3 separate regions of the Homo sapiens genome follow, and regions 1 and 3 are each linked to region 2. Evidence: fine-mapped expression QTL. A gene starts in region 2. Each other region holds a variant in brackets. All regions are shown on one strand. Distances are from middle to middle. Region 1 overlaps PLEKHA1 (pleckstrin homology domain containing A1). Region 2 holds the start of PLEKHA1 (pleckstrin homology domain containing A1). Region 3 overlaps PLEKHA1 (pleckstrin homology domain containing A1).

Region 1 (7,561 bases), 22 kb before region 2:
GTGGCTCACGCCTGTAATCCCAGCACTTTGAGAGGCCAAGGCGGGCGGATCACGAGGTCAGGAGATCAAGACCATCCTGGCCAACACGGTGAAACCCCGTCTCTACTAAAAATACAAAAAAAAATTAGCTGGGCATGGTGGCGGGCGCCTGTAGTCCCAGCTACTCAGGAGGCTGAGGCAGGAGAATGGCGTGAACCCAGGGGACGGAGCTTGCAGTGAGCCGAGATCGCGCCACTGCACTCCAGCCTGGGAGACAGTGAGACTTCATCTCAAAAAATAAAAATAAAAATAAAAATAAAGTCCACAAATCCAGGCATTTAATTGAATTAATCTTAATCTTAATAATTAAGATTAAGACATTAATCTGCTATGAGGAGATCAAAATGGGACTGGATCCTCTCTTGTACAGGAGAATGCCCTAGGATAATGGGATCACTTTATTAAATGCAGCTCATGGTTCATTTTAGAAGATGAGGCAACTAGCTGCATTTGGTTGCTGCTATCCCTTTAAATCAAGTACCTCCCAGAAGCTCATTCACAACTATTGCCATGCTGTTGTCCAGTGATAGAACTTATAATTGTAGCATCCGTTTTGCACCTTCAAAAGGAATTCTAAGCCTGGGGTTCCTCATTGATCCCAACTACAAACTCACAGTTCTGAGTCACACAAAAGTTTGTTCCAGAAATAAATTTTTGGAACAATAAATTTTTTTTTGGAAAAAAAGTGGTACGTCCAAAGTAGAGTACAAACTGCACAATTTAAACTTCAGGAAGCAGGAGGACAAGATGAAAGTTACAGAACTGCACAGAAAAAAGGTTCTATTTTAAAAGAAGAGCAATGGAGGAGAGGAAAGCAGCTGGCCAGTTACCCCACCTACTTTACTGATTTCAAGAAAGAGCTTCCATACAATATTTGTCGTATGTAAATTTACATAGTATGATCTTAACAGAAAAATGTTTCCTTTTAAATGTGTAATCTTTATTGTCCAAGGGCTCTTTTCTTTTCTTTTTGGTCAATGAGAATGAATACCTCTACTGTAATACTAATATAAAGTATTTTATTTATATAACATCTATCTTCTAAACAGAGGCACATTTGTAAATTGGTCTTCTGTTGAAGTGATCTACCTTTGCCAACAGATCTCAGTATATGCATAACAGTACCCATATTATTTAATAATACTGTTGCTACCTTTTGCATCTCATATATAAGTAATCAACAAACTTTTATTACTTTTATGTAACACACATGCACACACACACACACACACACACACACAAACCCATAGGGTTAGCACCTCAGCATCACTTAGTTCCCTAAACATTAATAGAAGAAAATAAGAAAAAAATGTACCTGACAAACATAAAATCAAAATTTTAAAAAATAAAAAATAGTATTGCAAAATTACCAGAAAAACAAATAAGAAAACAGAAATGAAAAGAGACAAAGTGAAAAGAGGGGGAAAATCATCCTTTCAACATGAAAATGGTCCATATTTTCCTCAAAATAAAACATTAAGAAACAAAGTATCAAAGACAATGGGATTTAAAAGTTGAAAACAGTCTAAATAAACATAATACAGACTTAGAAAAATCTCCAGACTTTCTCAAGATAGAATTTGTTTCACTGATTTCTCCCTTTCTGATGTTCATATACCTGATCATAAAAGTTAATGTTAACTTTTGCAATTTGCCACATCCTGTAAGTTAAAATCATATTCTTCATAACTGTATCGATTTAAAGAATTTCCTAAACGTAGTAATCAGGTACCATTTCAGTATGATAGGAATCTGAACATCACTGTTAAAGGACATGGAAAGGAAACTGCTGCTTCTATTCATACTCTCATTCACAGGGATTTTAATTCACACGAGTATAAGACAATGTATAAAGACTACCTTTGAAATGTAGGTAAGCTTAATGGCTCCAACACGTGATGATCCAGAAGGTAGGTTCTAGAAACAAAGTATTAATATATACTTAATATCCAATATTATGAATTCATTTTATAATATAATGTTCCACATATACTTCTGAAAAGTTAAAAACTCAATTTTTTAATATCACATTTTACAAATGAACTTTTCTTCTGTTCAAATTTTTACTAGGTCTGAAATCAAGTCCATAGCTTGGATAACAAAACTGAATCCTACTCTGTTCCATTATCATGCATTCTATGACTAAAAGGCTATTTTTATCACTGGAGCTAAACTAATACTTTCTCATGAGCTTAAAAAGCCATGAACAAGATCAGATTTTGTTCCTGAAAGCAAGGGGGAAATATTTACAGGCAGAAAACAAATATAATTGTAAGATACTTAAAAAGACTATACATATTACTTTGTTCTATTAAAATTTCTTTATCAAGTATCTCTTGACAAAAATGGACTGCATTTCCCCCCATTTAAATGGTTTACTGTTTTTTATGCCATATTAATCTACATTGATACTTTTTTTTCCACAAAAAAATGTTTGCTTCTCTTTATCATATGCAGGGAATGTAGGCACTTTCACACACAGTATTTTCATTCTTCCCGTAAGTTTCAGATGTGGTTTGCATCAAAAGAGCTAAAGGTAAACATAGAGGGAGAATCATCTCTGGTTGAAGCTATCCAGAAAGACTGAAGTGATGAACAACATTTAGGCTGGAGGTTAAGGAAAATTTTGAAACACAAAAAGCAGGGGAGAATATTCCAAGCAGAGAAAATGGACAAACTATAGCAAACAATGGAAGATGCACAGCTCTGTACTAGAAAGAGAGAGGGGGGCTATGTGGGGCTGTAATGCAGTGTCCTGTAAGATTGTAGTACAAAATGGTGGTCTGAAAACTTGAACTGAGAACCTAATCATAGAGGACCTAAATAAAAAAGTAGCAAAGAATTTATATCGTAGAGAATTTGAGGCCAACGAAGAAGGCTTATGAGCAGATCTGGAATCAAAATTATGCTCTTTTTATAATATATCTTATAATAAACTGAAGGGATTATAGAAGAGGAAGATAGAGGTAGGAAAACCAGACAAAAGAATCTGGGGAAAACAAATCAAGAATATAAATTTCATTTCTATGATAGAAGACTGATAAAAGACTGATAGAAGATTTCAGAAGTAAAAATGAAAACATTAGTTTTAGTTGATTTTGAAAATTATTTCTGCTGGAGATAAGACAGGATCAACTTTTCAACTGACTTTATAATAACGTACTTAAAAATATAAAAATCTATTGGCTTGTTCTAATGAATGATTAGGAGGTAACTGGAAGCCTAGACATTTCAAAGACTTAAGAGTCCCAAACATGAACTGCTTATTGTTGACAGGGACAGATCTTTTAAAAACTTTCACACCTATATATTGTAAAACTCCATTAATTATGTTCTGCTTTAAACTATATACTACGTACAAGCTTCCAAATATAAATCATCAATAGTAAATATGCATATAAAATAAAATTATAATTCATTAATGTATAACATTAAAAAGCTATTTGTATTCTTATGTATAACGTTTTAGATTTATGGGTTTTTGGTTTTTAACTTTAAAGAAGGAAAAGAAATGTAAATATGTCTTCAAGAATCTCTAACTACCACCAAAGTGATTTTTTCAAAAACTGTTACCCTTCCATTTAAGGGTAATAATTTATTTCTTTTCAGTTTTTCATGAGCCTATTATTTTAACTGCTGAATAGAGCTCTAAGCCTTTGTGGAAGGAAGACAAATGAGAAACCAAAGCATGACATAAAGTGTCACAGTAATAGTAGTACACTATGGGGAAATTTAAGTAGCTGAGAGAAAAACAATATTCAAAATACGCAGTTTCTGTGGACTAGTATGATTACCATCAGGTTCGACTGGAAAAAAATGAGATTCAAAATTTGTTACTTGACAATGAACAAGAAATAACAAACTAATAGAACATTTAAGAAAAAAAGGGAAATAGGCCATTTGTTGATTATGAGTTCCTAAACTCATTTTGCCAAATACTTTTTCGAATATCTTCAAATGCACTCCCTCGTACAGCAACTTAATTATTTCATTCTCCATGATTACCAACCTCCTGGACAAAACACAGGAAGCCCCAAAGTGATCCCTAATAAACACTAGAAAGAATTTTTAAACCCATGGTTAGTGGTAAAGGAAGCAGTGGTCAGGGGAAGAAGTGGCTTCCTAATAATAGAGGAATCAAACTAATTTTCTTTCTTTACCAAGGTTATTATGATCAGTATAACCATGTTATTATACTTTGACATAAGCAACTAGATTGAACCATATGACATTGCCATTTTTTTAGTAATTCAAAATGGCTGTATATTAGCAATTTCATATGGTTCAATCTAATTGCTTATGTCAAGATGCAATAACACGGTTATACTGAACATAATAACCTTGATAAAGAAAGAAAATAATATAATAATCTTAGCAAGACATTTTACTAAAGTTTTCAAGAGTAGGTATGTCTTGATTATTACATTTAAAAGTGACACCAAGTTGGTACTAATGGCTAATACACTGGCTGGCAGAATCAAGATTTCCTAAGTTGGAAAGAAGATATAAAATTAATAAGAACAAACTAAAAAATATTTAAATTCTGTACTTAAAAAAAAAACTGGCACTGTGTCCAGAAAAGCCAATGCATTAATTCTAACATAGAGATCTGGATTTTAA[AAG/G]TTTATGTGGACAAGACCTAGCTGAGTGCTATAGCCAAAGTGATCTAGTCTCCAAACACGCCATAGGCTCTCTTGCTTTGATCTCTGCCCACACTGTTCTTTGAGCACTGGAATACTCAACTTTTCCATCTCTTAGCCAATATTATATCCAAACTTCTAAGTCAATTTCAAATGTTACCACTTCCATGAAGACTTCAACTCCTTCTACTAGCTGTGTAACTTTCCTCTGAATTCCAAGTTCAAGTTTTATTCAGGGTAATAAATATATTCTATTTTGTACTTAACTCCTTTTAGCTCTGCTAAATGGGTAGTACTGATAAAGGAAGAATGACAAGAAGAATCTATTATGTAGGAACACAGAAAAATAATCAAGGAGCTTCAAGTAAAATTCAGGAGAAACCATACATATGTCAACCAGACCTTGTGAAGAGAGAGAAAAATCAGGGAGAGAAAATAGGCAGAACTGTGCAATGGCTCATATGGGTGAGGAGAGGTCCCTTACAACTCAAATTCTACATAAATAAACATACACACATTAGTATCTACTATAGACACATATATATCTTGTCTAATCTAAAATCAGTATATAGTGAAGAATACTAGACTACTTATCAGCAGACCTAGTTCCTGCTCTGTGAAACAGAACAGAACCTTGTATAAGTCTCTGCTCTTCCCTAGACCTTCCATTCCTCACCCACACGAGAAGCCTACTGGACAAAAATCAGCTTAGAAGTCTGCTAGAGATTCATCCCTTGCTTTGCACATACTTCCTTGCAACATACAACCCCATTTTTAACTTCTACACCAATTTTTATTTGAAGATAAAAAGTTCCAAAAGGCCGGGCGCGGTGGCTCATGCCTGTAATCTCAGCACTTTGGGAGGCTGAGGCTGGAGGATCACCTGACATCAGGAGTTCAACACCAGCCTGGCCAAGACGGAAAAACCCTGTCTCTACTAAAAATACAAAAAATTAGCCAGGTGTGGTGGCACACCCCTGTAGTCCCAGCTACTCGGGAGGCTGAGGCATGAGAATCACTTGAACCCAGGAGGCAGAGGCTGCAGTGAGTCAAAATCATACCGCTGCATTCCAGCCTGGGTGATAAGAGACTCCATCTCAAAAAAAAAAAAAAAAAAAAAAAAAAGTAGAGAAAGTTGAAAGTTTAAAACTACTTCACAGATGATATCTAATCTCAGGCCTCTTAAGGCTGGGATTCCAATTTTTTAAATTGTAGCATTTACCCCTGTGTTTTGCAAGGCAACAATAAAATCAAACTGCATTTCAGTTCATGGATGGCATTACAATGACTGACTCAAATCTGACACTACAAAATAAAAGGACTACATATGTGCAAGAGTATCATGTGGTTAAGTCATTTATTTATTTAAAAATAATAGTCTCTATCCTAGATGCAGCATCTTAAACCTAAATTTAATCTCACTAAAGGGACCCTGGTATTAAGCCTCCTTAATGCAAGAAAATCATCTATCCCTGGTCTTTATTTTAGCTGTTGTTTGAAATACATGTTACAAAAAAAGTATTTCTTATTTTTGGGACAGCTTCAATTGTTATTTTTTTCTGTGACTCAAGTTCTAATTTTCTAAAACCTAATTTGCCACCAGAGAGAGTATTTCTCTCTCGAGGGAAAAATATATACAGAAGCATTAATTTTTATCAAATAAACTTAGTTTCACCTTCTGAAATTCAAACAAAACAGTAGAGGTCAGGGGTGCAGGGCAGAGAGGACAGCCAGTAGAAATAAATCTAAAAATATACTGCTTAAGAAGACAAATCTAAAGCCTGTATAGTATGTTAAATACTTAAATACAACTTTCTGTGCTTTTAAAAGATAATCCTTGGGATTTTACAAACCTGTGGATTATCCATGTACCACACGAAACTATCTTCTCTGGTATCCAGTATGAAGTACCTTCGAAGAAATTTCCCACTGTTTTCATTTTCTTCAATGTCTAGAAAACCACAAATGCGATTCTGACGATCCACATAAGGCATTTCTGAGCTTGAACATTACACTGTAAAATAAAAATATTAACAGTAAGCTCCCTATGAAACAGGAAAGTATTTCTCATGGACTGCAAATCTGTTCAATGAGGGGGCAACTTGCCAACATTAGGTAAGGTCAATTAAAATGAACACACACCAACATCTGAGGCATTGACAAAAATCACTTTTGAAATTCAGTTTGTGAAGAGTGGTTACTAAATGTAACTATTTATTCACTGTGATGGGGACAACAGAGAGCTACTCACCTCAGCTGAATAATTTACTTACTTTTTCCCTAAAAAAACCCCAGGTGAGCCAAAAAAAATAGTTATCCAAATTTTAATTTCCTCACAAATCAAGATAATCTATCCTTTAGATTATTTTAGAATATTTTTAAATTCACAAAACAACAAAAGTTAAAATTTAGTGACCACTTGCTACATGCTAGGCTCTGTACAAGGTTCTTTTCCATATGTTAACTCTTTTAATCTTCTAAACAATCCTAGGAGTAGGCATAATCATCCCCAGCAGATAAGGAACTTAATACACAGGGGAAGTGATTTTCCAAAATTCCAAAACTAGTAGGCCAAGAGTCAAAGCCTGAATCCAGATTACCGCACTCTAGATCTCCTATCTTATGCTCTACACCATCCTCTCTAAAAAACCCTTGAATTGTTAAAACTAAAGTGAATCAAAATAAACTAGTTAATGTACTGGAAAGAGAGATAAGCAGGTATGATGTGCCTCCTGATGGAAGACACAAACATCACCTATCATGTGAACATAAAGCAACAAGAAAAAATGTTTTTTAGATCCCCTCTATATCCAAATACCAACCTACAGGAGATGCAGAACACAGAGGAACATGCTAAACTGCACCAAAGGAATTCAATCAGC
Region 2 (7,561 bases):
AAAACCCTATCTTCCTGAATATTATCAATTCAACTAATTAAAAGGCTTACTAAAATAAATAGCAAACATATGTTTGCTTAAGCATCTTCTAGGAATCACAAACTCACATATCCCTTATTAGACAGTACCCACAAGAAAAAAAGTTACTTAGGGTCAAATGGTTTAATATTGCTCAGTAAGTGTAAGAGAGTTCTAGTGCTATAACAAATAACAGGATGCTTTATGTTTACATAAAAACATCCCATATTTTTATGTTTCTAAAAATAATTAAGCATTATAAACAATCATCTAAAGCTACCAAGTTTTCTGCCCTTTCTGAAAGCATTCCTTTCAGACACCATGTCAATAAATTCTTAAATGCTGGATGTGTACTCACAAATGGTCAAAAAACCTAAAACCAAATCTTAATATTTAACTCCTATTGAAGTCATTTTATTGTATCATTGCAGATCTAAAACAAGATTTTTTAATCTTGAAATTTAAATTTTAATATTAACAAAAGTAAACTGCTCCAGCATGAGAAAAGTAATTATTTGCATATTACCTCAGCTCACAGTTGGAATCAAATAGGAAATACTTTAAGGCAGTTAGTTATATCAACCCAAAATTTTCTAATAAAAGCAATGTTACTATTGTCACAAATAATTACTACACTATATTCAGAAAACTATCTTCCCCATTCTCAAATAAGTTATTTAAACAATAATGACTTGACATCAAGCAATATGTCAATGTCAAAGTATGACTTAAATTATATTAATAAACTATTTATTAGATTTCATTCTGGGTTACAAATTATCACACAATTAAAATAACTTCGGGATTTGCAGCATGACTAATAATAATAAAGAACTTCCAGGCTTAAGTCAAAAAGCCACTTTGTTTAAATCTCCATTAAATGTTTTTTGTGGGGGGAAGTCCCCATAAAAATGTAAAATGTTTCCACCTTTCCCAAGTATCTTCCTAGGAGTGGTCAATATTGTCATATCCTATATGTTAGCAAACGATACTTGAATGACTTTTAAAGAAAAGAATCCAATGCTATTCTTAACATCCTTAAACACTTCTAAAAAGGTCCTTCCGGCTTATGAACTCATGGCAGTTTCCTCACAATTGTATACTTATCCTGTTTCACTGTCTCTCCTAGTCTATGACAAACTCAATTTTACACACCATCTTTCCTATTTTGTTACACTGCTAAAACTGGGGAGAAAAAAAGATACAAACCTGCTACTTTCCCCCCTCCCAAAGCGACAATGAAAATACTAATTAACAAGATAAAGATTGGAAGCTCTGCGCGCGCCCGCGCGGTGTGTATACACATATATTTATATTATATATATATATATATATATATATATATATATCTTCTTAATGTCACTAAATTCACAGCCATATATCTTGATACAGGTATACGCTACAAGAGAAAACTGTCAGTAGATACAGTGTAAGGTTTACGGCAGTATAAAATAAATTAACTACTTTATTAATTCAAATTCTGTCAAACTTAAATACTCTTTTTTAAATGTATCAGTACTCTAAAATGCAATTTTCCTTGGGAAAATTGGCCAAGATAAAAAATACTTTAACTCCACTAGGGGAAATATTTCTTTTGCCACAAGTGTGTCAACAGGAAAAATTAAGAGCATGAAAAGTAAACAGGTATTTTGATCAGAATAAATCTTATTATTTTAATATAACGGGTCTTCAAGTTCTTCAGATTGTGAAGAAAAACACAGTTTCACAAAACAATCACATAACTCTTACCCAAACTTTGCTGTAAATGGTTTCAGTGGCATCAAATTAACATAGAAAGTATGCAAGCTGAGTACTTGGGAAAATAAAGCAGATTGATCAGGAGTTCTAAGATGAAAGACAATGGTGTAAACCTCATAGTGCACTATTTGTTCCAGTCATTAAACACACAGGAAATAAGATTTTCTATTTAGAAAACTAACTCACAAGGGGCAATGACTTCATTAAAACAAAGAAAATCTTATTAAAACAACGATCAATTGTAAAATAAGAAAACCAGTACTGCAGAATTGGAAGGTGAAACAAACAGACGAGGAAAACGCAGAAACTGCCTGGATATTTATTTGTTCCTTGAACCTCTTCTTGTACTGCCCCCAGAGAGCAAAGGAGTTTCATTATTTATACGCCCAGACCACGGTAGATGCTCTGCGCGGGGGCACAGCCTCACCAGAATTCTACCAAAGGCGGTAAACACTATAAGCAACAGGACCGCTTTCATTATGACACACTTTCCCCTCTTTCCAGGAGGTCAATAGAAAGCATCTGAAACAAACCACAAACCACTCAAGACGGCCCCAAAGCTCTGCGGTTGGCAGCTGGCCTCGGCGTCGAAAGACCTGGGTCTGGTCGCCTCCCCGGTGCCACCTGCGTGACCTTGGGCAAGTCGCTTTCAACGCTGCCTCTGGCCACCTGCCCCGAAGGTGCGGAGGTAAATCGCGGACACCGCCCGACTTCAGGGCCCAGGGCGGAGCCGGCTTCGGCCTCGGCAAGTCCTGAAGCCAAAATGCATTAAACACCAGGAAAGGATGCCCGGGGACGCGCGCCCCGCGGGCACAGCCCTGGAGGGAGGCGCTCCGACCGGCGCCACCGGGAATCCCCGGGCAGCTGCGCGCACCGCGCCCCGAGCGGGATTTCTCGGGGGGCGGAGACGCCGAGGAGCTCGTCGGCCCCGCGACCGCCGCGGGCCTCCCGCCCTCCCCCGCCGGGCGCCGCTGAGGGCTGACGTCGGGAAAACAATCGGGGACCCACGGGAAGAAGACGCCGCCCCCTCCCGCTGCCCCAAGCCAGGGCAGGTGAGCCGGCCCGGCGGCCTCCAGGTGCTGTGGCGCGTGGCGCGGACGTGCGCAGAGGGGGCGCCGGCTCCGCACTCACCAGCACCCACCGCCCCTCTGCGGACGCCTCCCCGCTCGCCACAGCGGGAACCGCGCTCCAGCAGCCCGGCAGCCCCGCAGCCGCCGCCACCTCGCGCCTGGCCCCGTCCACCACCCCTGCTCCAGCGCGGCCGCGTTCTTCAAGCTAAACTTTACCGCGGCCTCGGCCCGGAGCACCCGCGCCGCCGCGGCCCCGGCTCCCACAGAGGCTCGGCTGCCCGGAGCGGCGTCCGCGACGGCCAGCCCGCGCACTGCGCACGCGTCCCCACGCTGCCTCAGCCCTCAGACGGCGGCTGAGATTCCGGAGCGGGCGCTCCCAGCCCGCAGAGACTACGAGTCCCGGCAGGCCCCGCGCGGGTCCCTGCGGCGTGGCGGGCCGAGTTTCTGGCGTCTTCCTGGTTCCAGCGGCGGCGGCCTCGGCGCGCCGGGGAGGCCTGCGCGCGGAGCTCTGGGCCGCCGCGCCGCGGTGCTTCCTGGTATTCGTAGTTTTTGACCACCACTGGGCTTGGCTCGGAGGTAGAACTCCGGGTTCTCTGATGTCATCGCCTAGAGCTGCGAGGAACAGGGATCTTTAAAAATAGGCTTCGTTAGTTTGCAGATAATTTGTTTGCAAGCTGTCCCATAATCGGTCCAAGTGTCACAAATTTACAGGCTGCGGTGTGACCTGGAGAAAAACGCTTTACAGCTCTGCGCGCCAATTTTTCGCTCTTCTCTCTCCCTGCAAATGTAGCTCCACTGCCTACTTACAATGGTGTTAATAGTACAGGAGGGTAAGAGAGACTTAAAGAAGGGTTAGTCGAAATTCTTTCAGCAACGGTGGAGCATAAATATGTATTCTGGTAAATATTCGTTGAGTGTTTAGCAATTTCTCGAGCACTTAACTGTGTGCCAAGTACGCGATAGGCAACCCGGCATTCATCTGAGAAAGAGACACTGTCACTGCCCTTATGGAGCCTGCAGCTTGGGGGAAACTCGTCCGCAAACTAGCAAAATCGTTCCAGATTTTAATAGAATGGCCAGACTGAGAAAGTTCAAGAGACAGTAGCGGTGGCGGGGACGGGGGGAGGCTCTTCAGAGAGAGTGGCAAGGCAAGTTCTCTGAGGATGTGATATCTGAGCTGAAACCTGAAGAATGAGAAATATTCAGACAGGCAAAGAACTGGGAAAGAATTACATGCCACGCCTTTCACAGCGCATGCCACTCTAGGCTCTTAATAAATATTTGTTCTTTTTGTGTGCTTCTTCCTTTCCTCTCCTTGCACAACCTTAGATCACATCCTATCCCCTTCAAACCCTTTAAAAAATCTTTATCAACATCTTTTAGAATATCCTTCCTATGTGAAAATGTACATGAAACAAATGTCCAGTGGTAAGACAAGCTGTACAGCTGCTAGGACAGAAGACACAACCCTGGTGACAGGCTGGAATCTATCTACTTTGCCACTTTCTTTATTTGCGAACTGGGTTAGAAGTCTGGGGGCTCAGCCTGGCCTCCTGACTTGTTTCTCTTCATGGGGCATCATACAGGATTTTGAGTTTGTCTTTATTAAAATCTTAGAGGAAGCCTACCTGTTATCTGAATCAGAGGTGTAGTGAAGAACAGCCCTAGATTTTCCTGTGTAGACTTACCTATGTGACTTTATGCAGAGAGTGACACTTTGCCCTTCTGACCCTCAGTGACCTCGACTGTAAATGAGTGTCATCCACCCTGCCTGCCTTGCAGAATGTTCTCAGAGTCTGATAAATTGATGGAGGTGAAAACATCTTGCAAACTGCATAGAACGGCTCTCTGACTGCCTCTTTGAGACTTAGCATTTTCAATTGCCTTTCATCCAACGTGATATTTTGGTTATCTTTTGAGAAACCTTAGCTATGCAGCCTTGCTGACATCTGTCCCTTTTGGGGTCCTCATCTGTATAATGGTTGAAAGGGTTTGGCCTCACTATAGTTTATAAAGTAGCCAGAGCAGATTGTTTCCTTTGGTCCACACAGTGGGTTTTTGTTGATTTAACTGAATGTGTGGTTAACATTTAAAAATAAAAATCTAGGTGTCACCTGTCTTATCCCTGTAGGCATTTGAGTTTGCCTTCCCTGGCTAGAAGGTCTGGAAGGAGTCTCTAGCTTGTCAGTGCTAGAATCCTAGAAGATTCCAGATGGGAAATTTGTTTATTTGAAATTCAAAGTCAAATTCACATCTTTTATTTGATCTGAAAATACTGGTCCTGAGAATAGAACACTTAGGCCAAGAGCCTCTCACCCTCTCCAGGCTGGACCCGCCGGATCTCTCTCCTAAATGTTGTTTGACATCATTGATGAGTGGTTTGAAATTGTTCCTTTGGCCAATGTGATGGCTCCTGCTTGTAATCCCAGCACTTTGGGAGGCCAAGGTGGGCGGATCACTTGAGGTCAGGAGTTTGAGACCAGCCTGGCCAACATGGTGAAACCCCCTCTACTTAGCCAGGCATGGTGGTGGGCACCTGTAGTCCCAGCTACTCGGGAGGCTGAGGCAGGAGAATCAACTGAACCCACGTGATGGAGGTTGCAGTGAGCTGAGATCGTGCCACTCTACTCCAGCCTGGGGGACAGAACGGGACTCAAGAAAAAAAAATTGCTCCTTTGTTCTTTTTGCATAACAAGTCCCCAAAACTGTTTATCATTGAGAGCCATATTTACATACAGTAAAGAAAGCCAGAAAAGTAACTCAGTTTGCCCAAGGACACACAACAAGATAATCCCAGGACTGCTTTGAGGTTGCAGTATAACCAGAACTTCATAGCTCCCGATCAGCCAATAAATACAGAGACAAAAAAAAAAAGCTCTCTGCTTTTCTTCCAGCCTCTTTTTTTTTGGATGCAGAGGTTTATTACATAACAGTGCTTTCAGTGCTATTTAAAAAAAAAATAGTACAGGGAAATTACAGTCTGGGAGCAAACCAAGAACACTCAGGACTCACTGAAGGCACTGAGGAATGCTGGAATATTCCATGGCTACTTTTCATCTGAAGAAAAAGGAGGAGTCTGAATTCAAGGATCTATAGTTTAGCTGTTTACTTTTTTTTTTTTTTCTGCCGGAAGGGACAGAGTCTCGCTCTGTCGCCCAGGCTGGAGTGTGGTGGCACAATCCCAGCTCACTGCAACCGCTGCCTCTGAATTCAAGTGATTCTCCTGCCTCAGCCTCCCAAGTAGCTGGGATTACAGGTGCCTGCCACCATGACAGGCTAATTTTTGTATTTTTAGTAGAGTCAGGGTTTCTCCATGTTGGTCAGGCTGATCTCGAACTCCTGACCTCAAGTGATCTACCCCCCTCCTCAGCCTCCCAAAGTTCTGGGATTACAGGTGTGAGCCACTGCCCCAGCCTGCAGTTTACCTTTAAAGTATCACTGTCATCATTATCATCATGCTTTGCACGTGTGAAGTACGTTGATGTTTCATTCAAAAATAGCTCTTGGGCCCCTTCCATATGCTTAGTGCTGGGCTCTGGGGCTTCCAGACAGACGTCAGCCCCTCTGACAACACAAAAAGCAGCGTACAGAGGCACGCAGAAAGCTCCTGAATGCTAGTCACCTCTCTAATATTTGATGTCTGCAGCATTTCCTGCATTATCTTTTTCCCCTTAGCAATGGTCACTTTTGTACATATTATATATGTGCATATATATTTTTTTTTCTGCATATCCCTCTAAACTGTAACCTCCACGTGGCCAGGGATTTTATGTTTTGTTCCTGCTTGTATCCTTAGTGCCTACAACAGAAGTATGTGTTGAATGATGAATGCCACAGTCCCCTTTATGGACAGAGCCAGCATCAGAAGCCAAGCAGAAGGAGTACCTCCAGAAGCAAACCTCTGTTCTAACCAGAAATCAGAACCAAGATAGAACAAGAATTAAACATGAACTGAACACTCTCTGAACCCGGCTTTGTTCTTTTTGTGTCCCCTCCAGAAACTGGGTAGCAGAGAGTTAAAAACGGCTTTTCCCTATTTTTTAGTGTAAAAATGGCACAAGAACTCCAGGCAGCGAGTCAGTGGAGTTGCTTCTGTGGGTGAAGAGTCGGAGCTGGCTTTCTGACCCTGCCTCACAACTGGCAATGACCAAGTGAGGGGAAGCATGATTCTCAGTAATCACCCCAAGCAGGCACAGATTAAGTGACCTTCCCAGATTACCAATCAGGTGACTGGAGTCTCCTTCTGGAGCTAATTCTTGCATCCCAGGGCTGGGGCAGAACAATCCTCCTTCAGGAAGGTGCCACGAAAGATTGTCCACATTTTATGCTTACCAAGGTGGAAGAATAGGATTTCTGAAAAAGTCAGCAACCAGCCCAAATTCCAGGCCCACACAGGAAAAAAAACAAAAAACAAAAAACAAAAAACTGGGCATCCGGGGAGATGCTTGCCTCCAAGACTTGTAGAGAGCAGAACTAGGTCTTTCCTGCCTTAGGATTATCAGACAAGGAAGGGAGCCCAACACTGAACATCTGGGTTGGACAGGATCTAAAGTTGCTGAAAGCCACTGGAGTTCTAAAGGTCCCCAGCAACCCTATGATCTCTGGGGGTCTGGTGGGTTCCAGCTGCATCTACACCCTAGTTAGGTCATACATTAATTACCCTGACCACATGTGGCAGGCCTGGGATGGTGGTAAACCCTAAAATTGCAGAGCAC
Region 3 (7,561 bases), 50 kb before region 2:
TCTCCAACTTTTCCTCTTCCCAACAGACACTGTTTTTGCAGAGAGTCTCATACTTGACTGCTGAAAAAGTCACATAAAATACAGGCAGTTACAAAATGAACATCTATGAAAGTGACTTCTTAGATATTTCAAAAAGGATATAAAGAGAGAATGACTTAACAACTAAGAAATCAGAAACATTGATTTCTATTTATTTATCTGTAGTTATCACTACCAGAAAACTAATAAAAGGCGGTATTATAATACTATCAGAAAAAAATATTAAAAGTGTAAGTAACTAGCATATATGTCATAGTAAATCTAGATAATAAAGGCTATCATGCTACATATGAGACTACTTTCCGCAGATGGCAGTGTTACATTTTAAGATACTTTAAATTTTCAGACCTGAGATCAGTGGCCAAAGTATTCCAAATGCAAATCTAATTCTTATGTACTTGAACACAAGAAAAATCTTTTAAAAAAATATTTCTGAGCAGAATGTTTAGTTGTATTTCAATTTTATTATCATACTACCACAAAGATAATTATGGTAGTTTTCAGAAGCAGGCTGTTAAAGCAGGTTTTAAAATGAGAATTAAAACATGAAATGGAAACACTGGGAGCACTGAACTGTATTTAAGGCCCCAGCTGCTCAGTGATCTGATGGCATGGTTAAGCCAAAGGTAAAAAACAAAACAAAACCAAAAAACCTGAACTGAAATCAGAGGAAGTAAAGAGGAAATTGAGACGTTCACAAAACTGTGTAACGCTACAACTAAAAGTCTTACATGATCCTGATCACACACCATACTAAGAATCTGTCAGATTATGCCAAATCTAGAGCTACTGACAAGTAAGAACTCCTAAAACAAAGCAAGGAAATGTTTATTCTTTAGTTGCCCTACTTGTGCATTTAACACAATACAATGCACAGAAAGTTATGTATACATAATACTACAAGGAAGCATTAAATTAGAAATGCATTATTTTTTGCAAGTCCAATTGGTATAAAAGTCAACATGCAAATAAATCTCAAGAAAGAAAGAAACCGGATGGATTGGGAGAGAGGAAATTTGATAGGATGGGGGAGACGCAAGGGAGTATCACCCCAGAGAGCAGGAAACCTACAGAAGACGCAGATCTGCCGGGACCCCGCTGTGCTACAATGGCGCCAGAGACTGCTTTAATCCAACTGTGCATCTCTTCAGGGCTATCAGCCTAAAGGAAAAAAGAACTCATTCAAACAATTTTTTCTCAAAATCACCTACTTCTATACAGCCAATGTATTTATTTTGATAACTTAAAATACTGTCATCAACAAAATCACTCTAAGGCAACTGTTTCCAAAAAATTTAGAAATCATTTTTTTAAAGCCAGGTTTTGCTAGGTCTTAACTACACAGAGACATAAATTGAGCACTTCAATGTCAAGATCAGACCCATCAACAGGCGTCAATAATGAATACCTCCAGACAGAAAACAAGGAGAGGAGGAAGTCCAAGAAAAACCCTTCTTATTTCACTCTACCTACTGCTACACTGTCTGAATCTGCTACAAGAATATTTATGTAGTTGTGTAATTTTTAAAAATTCTGACATTCTTTTACATATTTTTCTGGAAATAATTTCTAGTAGTACCCTAAATCCTACAATAAGTATTGACAGATACGTCTGGCTTTCAATGTGAATTTTAAACCTTACTATGAAATTAATCCAATTAAATAAGGCCCCAATCGGGGTGCAGAGATACTGCCTCTTGTTTCTAGATTCTAGAATCCCTTACACTTCTAGAATCTAGAAATATGAAAAAGTTTAAAATGCAGAATATTTTTGAATAAGTAATATTAACAAAGACTAAAAAAAAAAAAAAATACAAGTAGCCAAAGGTAGAGTATACTTCATTCATTACTAATGGAAATACAATTCTAGAAATCAATTTGACAAAATAGAAAGGGTCATGCTCTGATAGTTAATCTCGATCTAGAAACTTACCCTAAAGAAATCAGGCAAAGTAATGCACAAAGATGTTTTTCATCATTTTATTACAGTAAATGTACAAAAACTATGCACATGAACAGAGTAACACAGACACAATACAGCAACAGAGTAATACAGACACAATTTACTGGTGGAACATCAATGGAGTATGGTGCAGTTCTAAAAGGTTTTCAGATAATTTTTAATGACATGGGAAAAAAATAACAATATATGAAACAAATAGGATATAACACTATATTTAGTATGACCCCACCTATTATAAAAATATATACCTTAAGAAAGGGAGCAAAATCATAAGAATGGTTGCCTCAATGTGGGACTGAATGTTTTATAAGCCACATTTTTCTGAAATCTTTCTATATTTTCCAAGTTTTCTGGAATAAGCATATTTAACTTCAATAAAACAAAAACAAATCATCCCTTTTTGATTTTTTTTTTTTTTTTTTTTTTGAGACAGGGTCTCTGTCACCCAGGCTGGAGTGCAGTAACACGATCTCAGCTCACTGTAACCACCTCCTGGGTTCAAGCGATTCTCGTGCCTCAGCCTCCCAAGTTGCTAGGATTACAAGCCTGCACACCACCACGGCTGGCTAATGTTTGTATTTTTAGTAGAGATGGGGTTTTGCCATGTTGCCCAGGCTGGTCTCGAACTCCTGGACTCAAGCGATGTGCCTGCCTTGGCCTCCCAAAGTGCTGGGATTACAGGTGTGAGCCAACACAGCCGGCCCAAATCTTTTTTTAAAATTTTCCATTTAAATAATTCAATGAAGTATGCAAAAAGTACAATTTAAACTTAAATACAGGATGCCTACTATTAGTGAAACTATATAAATCTACTGTCTACTTTTACTATGGGTTTTTTTAATAAGGTTACCAAAAAATGATATAATAGAAAAATCAAAATTCTAAAACATGTGCAAAAATAATCCAACTTGAAAGTACACACTTAACATCTAAATTAAAAGCATTTCCCTTTCTCTAAATACTTAGTTCTAGTTCACTAATTCATAACAAATACTCCCACTTCCTGAACATATAACCCCACCAATAACTCTATATACAGTACCCTTTTATTAAGCTGGTGAATTACAGTTGTCATATTTTTTTAACCTCAAGTGCAACAAGCTTGTTTATGTTTATTTCACCTCTAATATTATTAATTTCTTTTTAGGAGGATCTATTAATTGCCAAATAAGCATCTTACCTGCACATAGAAAGTTCGAGACGTTGTTACAATTTCAAAGAGGTTGTCCCTCATCATTATGTCGCTGTATGAAAAAAAAATCCAATTATACTTAAATAGCAGTTGTTTGAGTTTCTCTTTCATTTGTTTACCCAGTACCCAGTATGCGTCAATAAATAAATGAGGTAAAGCACTGATTTAGCAAACCCAAATTATCTTTTCCCATTTATTTTAATGTAAGATTTTACATATTTCATGTAGTTTCACTTTTAGAAAAAGTTCACAAAGCAACTTTAAAGTTCAGAGTTTTTAGTAATCAGTTTGGTGAAACACTGTCACAGCTAACACATTTTCTTGTGAAGCTCTATTCTACTGCATCTTTTAAACACTTAATACATCAATTTGTCAAATCTGATGGCCTAACCATAAGTTGTTCACATTAAATTTATTCCTTTCCATTAGTAAGCTGTTTCTGTATTTTTAGTTTTCAAAGAAACAAATAAACGATTCTTTCCTAATTTTTAGTTTTCAAATGAACAAAGTAGTTCAATACTTTACTCTGAGGGTTTTGAAAATTCTAGTGTATCTCAACTATAAAGAGTTAAAAATAACTACAATTAATATGGAAAAATGTAATCTGTAAGTACATTACTCAAACTAAGGCACTATTCTGTGTTTATAACTTGTGCCAGGCATCAAGTCAGAGCGGTTCCTTACCTTTGCTTACATTCCTGGACTTTATGAACCTCTTTAAGTGGTATTACACGAAGAGGTTCCTTTTCCTGGCAAAAAAAAAAAAAAAAAAAAAACAGTTACATGATGTTTATTCTTAAAATCCTTTCAAAGGTTAGCTGTCTTATTTGAAGACCCATGTGAAAATCACACTTCTTTTCTGAAGCACATCTCAGAAATAAATCTACCTTCTTAAACCATCCAGCATCTGAATAGCTCAAACACTATAACCTTATATACACTGTTGTTTGAAACAAGAAAAACTGCATACGGCCCTTATTCACATTATTTCTGGCCTTAAGGGCAGTGTAACTAATTAAAAGCTATTAGCCATCAGACTTTCCCCGACGGACCCACGTACCAGTATGCACAGCATCTCCTTTTCTGGAATGTCACTTTGATATACAAGGCAGCAGAGCAAGTGCACATCCTGCTTCTTTGACTTAAATTTGTGATTTTACAAATATCACTTTTATATAAATACAAAATTGAATGTTTACTAAGTGCTGAGACATCTGCTAGCTTTTAAATGTTTTATCTCACACTTTCCCCAACCCTACAACACATGTACTACTATTCATGT[G/A]CTGAAACTGCAGATTAGACATGTTAAGTATCTCACCCAAGGTTACAAAGTAGATATAAGATACAAATATAAAACTGGTTCCTAATAGCATATTTCTAGTATACATTCCATAAAATACAATATACATATTTCATTGAATATGACAGCGTGAGATTAAGACATACCATTACTTTATGTAGCACCAAAAATAAAACTAAACCATGACAGAGTGTTGTTGTTTTTTTTGTTTTTTTTTTTTTTGAGATGGAGTTTCGCTCTTGTTGCCCAGGCTAGAGTGCAATGGTACGATCTTGGCTCACTGCAACCTCCGCCTCCTGGGTTCAAGGCAATTCTCCTGCCTCAGCCTCCCAAGTAGCTGAAATTACAGGCGCCTGCCACCACGCCCAGCTAATTTTTGTACTTTTAGTAGAGATGGGGTTTTACCATGTTGGCTAGGCTGGTCTCAAACTCCTGACCTCTGGTGATCTGCCCACCTTGGCCTCCCAAAATGCTAGGATTACAGGCGTGAGCCACCACGCCCAGCTGGGAGTGCTTTTTTAAAAAAAAAAAAAAAAATCATAGATCTTTTTTAAAAAGTTTTACAAAATAGTTTAATTTTGAAATAATTTCACACTTAATAAGAGACTGAGAAAAACAGTACAAAGAATTTCTGCATAACCTACACCTTGTTTTCTAAACTGTTGATATTTTACATTTGCTTTATCATTATCTGTTTATGTTTATATATGTGTGTGACAGAGTATATGTATATATATAGATTCCTGAAATGCTTGAAGGTTAAGTTGTAAATATGATGTACCTTTACTAAACGCTTCAGTGTGTATTTCCTAAAACATGGATGTGCTCTTGCATAACCACAGTGCAATTATGAAAACTGGAAACTCAACACTGATGCAATACTATAATCTACAGACCATCTTCAGATTTCATTAATTGCCCTACCTGTATTCTTTACAGCACAAAAACCATTTTCTGATCCAGAGTTAAATCCAGGATCATACCATGTATGTAGCTGTCATGTCGCCTTTAACTGTGGAATAGTTCTTCATTCGTTTTTCAGAGTTTAAAGAAGTGCAGGCCAGTTATTTTTGTAGAACACCTCCCAGTCTGGGTTTGCCTGTTATTCGTGCTGAGATTCAGTTTATACACTTTTGACAGGAAGCCACAGACATGACACTGTTCTTCTCAGTGGACCACTATTAGGAGGTACACACCCGATGGTGGCTTGTCCTGTCACTGGTGTGTTAACCCTGATCTGTTGCTTAAGGTCATGTTTGCCAGTAGCTGTAAAATTACTTTTTCCCTTTGTCACTGTTAAGTATCTTGTGGGGAGATACCTGGAACCTATAGTAATACCAGGTTTCCCATCATAATTTTGCAACTAGTTTTATCAAACCCTGAAAACTCCTGCCTGAAACCATTACTAGTGGCTGCCAAATGGTGATTTTTCTAACCCCATCAATCCATCTACATATATTAAATAGAATTTTACTCTAAGGAAATATTTTTCCTTCTCCATTTATTTATTTATGACTCATTTTTATTCTATGGGTTATATTCCATTACTATCATTACTTATTTTGTTGTTTAAATTGTCTGCATTTTGGTCAGCTCCTTCAAGGTAATTTCTGTGTCCTTTTGACATGTTCCATTCATTCTCTGAGCCACTTCCTTATCCTCTGGCACAACTTCACTTTCTGAGCTCAGCTTGTACTTTATCTGCCCCAGCTCTGAAATCAGTCACATCACCAAGGGTTCCTGATTCCTTTTGTTTACAGAATGGCATTTACAGTTGCTTTTGGGCAGGGTGGGTGGGGATTTGCCAATCTCTTAACTCAGCCACAACCTTCTCATGACAGATGAGAATATTTCATTGCAGTTTTAATTTGCATTTCTCTAATTATCAGTGATGCTGAATTTTTTTAAATATTTTAAGACCTATTTTAATTTTTAAATGAATTGCCTATTCATGTCTTTTGTTCATTTGCCTACCAGGTATTTTCCCCTCCATTTTCTCTCTTTTTTTAATCTTTGAAACAAACACGAATTTATACAAGGATTGAAAATACAGCATAAAGAACTGATTTTCCTGAACCATTTCAGAGTGAGTTGCTGACCTGTCCCACACTACCCCTGAATACTTTTCCTACATTCTCTTACATAATCACAATACAATCATCAGAATCAGAAAACTGTGCCCAAAATGTCTTTTATTAGAGCAAAAGAATTCAGTTCAGAAGCACGAATACCATCTGCTTGTCAAATATTTTCTTTCCCTCAGTCTGGAACAGTTCCTCATTATTCCTTGACTTTCATAATCTTCACTCTATGAAGATTGCAAGGTAGTTATTTTGTAGAATGTCCCTCATTTGGGTGTGCCTCATGATGGGATTCTGATTACATACCTTGGGCAGGGATTTCACAGAAGTGATGCTGTCTTCGTCTTCCACTATCCTGTCAGGTGATTTCAATTTACCTCATTACCAATGACATTCACTTTAATCATCTGACCACCTGAGTAAAGTGGTATCTGCCAGGTTTCCTCACTGTAATGTTATTCTTTTCCCCCTTGTACAACACTTAATACCTATTTTAGTAGACAGGTACTTTGAAACTATGTAAATATTTCATTCCTCATCATACATACAGATATACATCCATTCACCAAAAAGTATTGTTTCTCTGACAAGATTTGGCTTCTATTATCCTTAATATAGTTCTTGATTTTATCAATCAGTGTGTATGTGACCATTCTCCCATCTCTGCCACCACCCCTCCCCATGTGGATGCCCTTCTCTCCCTACTCCGCGTGGGGCTAACCCCCCAAGAGGACAGCCTCCTTGTCCTGCGTGGGCTCTGACACCCACACAAAGCTACACTGGTTCCTCTTGGATGCCTATGTTGCTTTGCCTCACCTAATAAATTAGAGTCTGAGTCATTTCAGATTGATGGAAGGAAAAGAGAGCAAAGTAGGTGAGGAAAAATCCCCTCAGTTTTTAAGATTCCTTGTAAGTTTTATCTCTAATACATGTTGCAAATATTTTCACCAATTTTTCGGCTGTGCACTTAAGTCTTTTATACTTAT

What was found. PIP is the estimated chance that this variant, and not a neighbour inherited with it, causes the effect. A credible set is the group of variants that fine-mapping cannot tell apart.
Region 1: its variant is the best candidate, but not a certain one, in a credible set for the expression of PLEKHA1 in blood mononuclear cells (TOPMed, PIP 0.54).
Region 3: its variant is the best candidate, but not a certain one, in a credible set for the expression of PLEKHA1 in whole blood (INTERVAL, PIP 0.59).

What each region holds. Positions count from the first base shown.
Region 1 is chr10:122,392,313-122,399,873 of GRCh38, reverse strand. PLEKHA1 (pleckstrin homology domain containing A1) reads right to left here. Exons shown (of 12, transcript NM_001001974.4): 2 at 6,533-6,693; 3 at 1,900-1,956. The coding sequence starts at 6,673. Among named protein-coding and RNA genes, the nearest start is that of MIR3941, 21 kb to the left of the region's middle. The variant AAG/G (reference allele first, on the strand shown) is at 4,660.
Region 2 is chr10:122,370,308-122,377,868 of GRCh38, reverse strand. It overlaps PLEKHA1 (pleckstrin homology domain containing A1), which reads right to left and starts at 3,161. Exons shown (of 12, transcript NM_001001974.4): 1 at 3,063-3,161. RefSeq lists silencers at 2,554-2,753, 2,764-2,923, 2,944-3,013, 3,054-3,163, 3,304-3,453.
Region 3 is chr10:122,420,581-122,428,141 of GRCh38, reverse strand. It overlaps PLEKHA1 (pleckstrin homology domain containing A1), which reads right to left. Exons shown (of 12, transcript NM_001001974.4): 9 at 3,879-3,943; 10 at 3,183-3,246; 11 at 1,111-1,200. Among named protein-coding and RNA genes, the nearest start is that of MIR3941, 7.4 kb to the right of the region's middle. The variant G/A (reference allele first, on the strand shown) is at 4,477.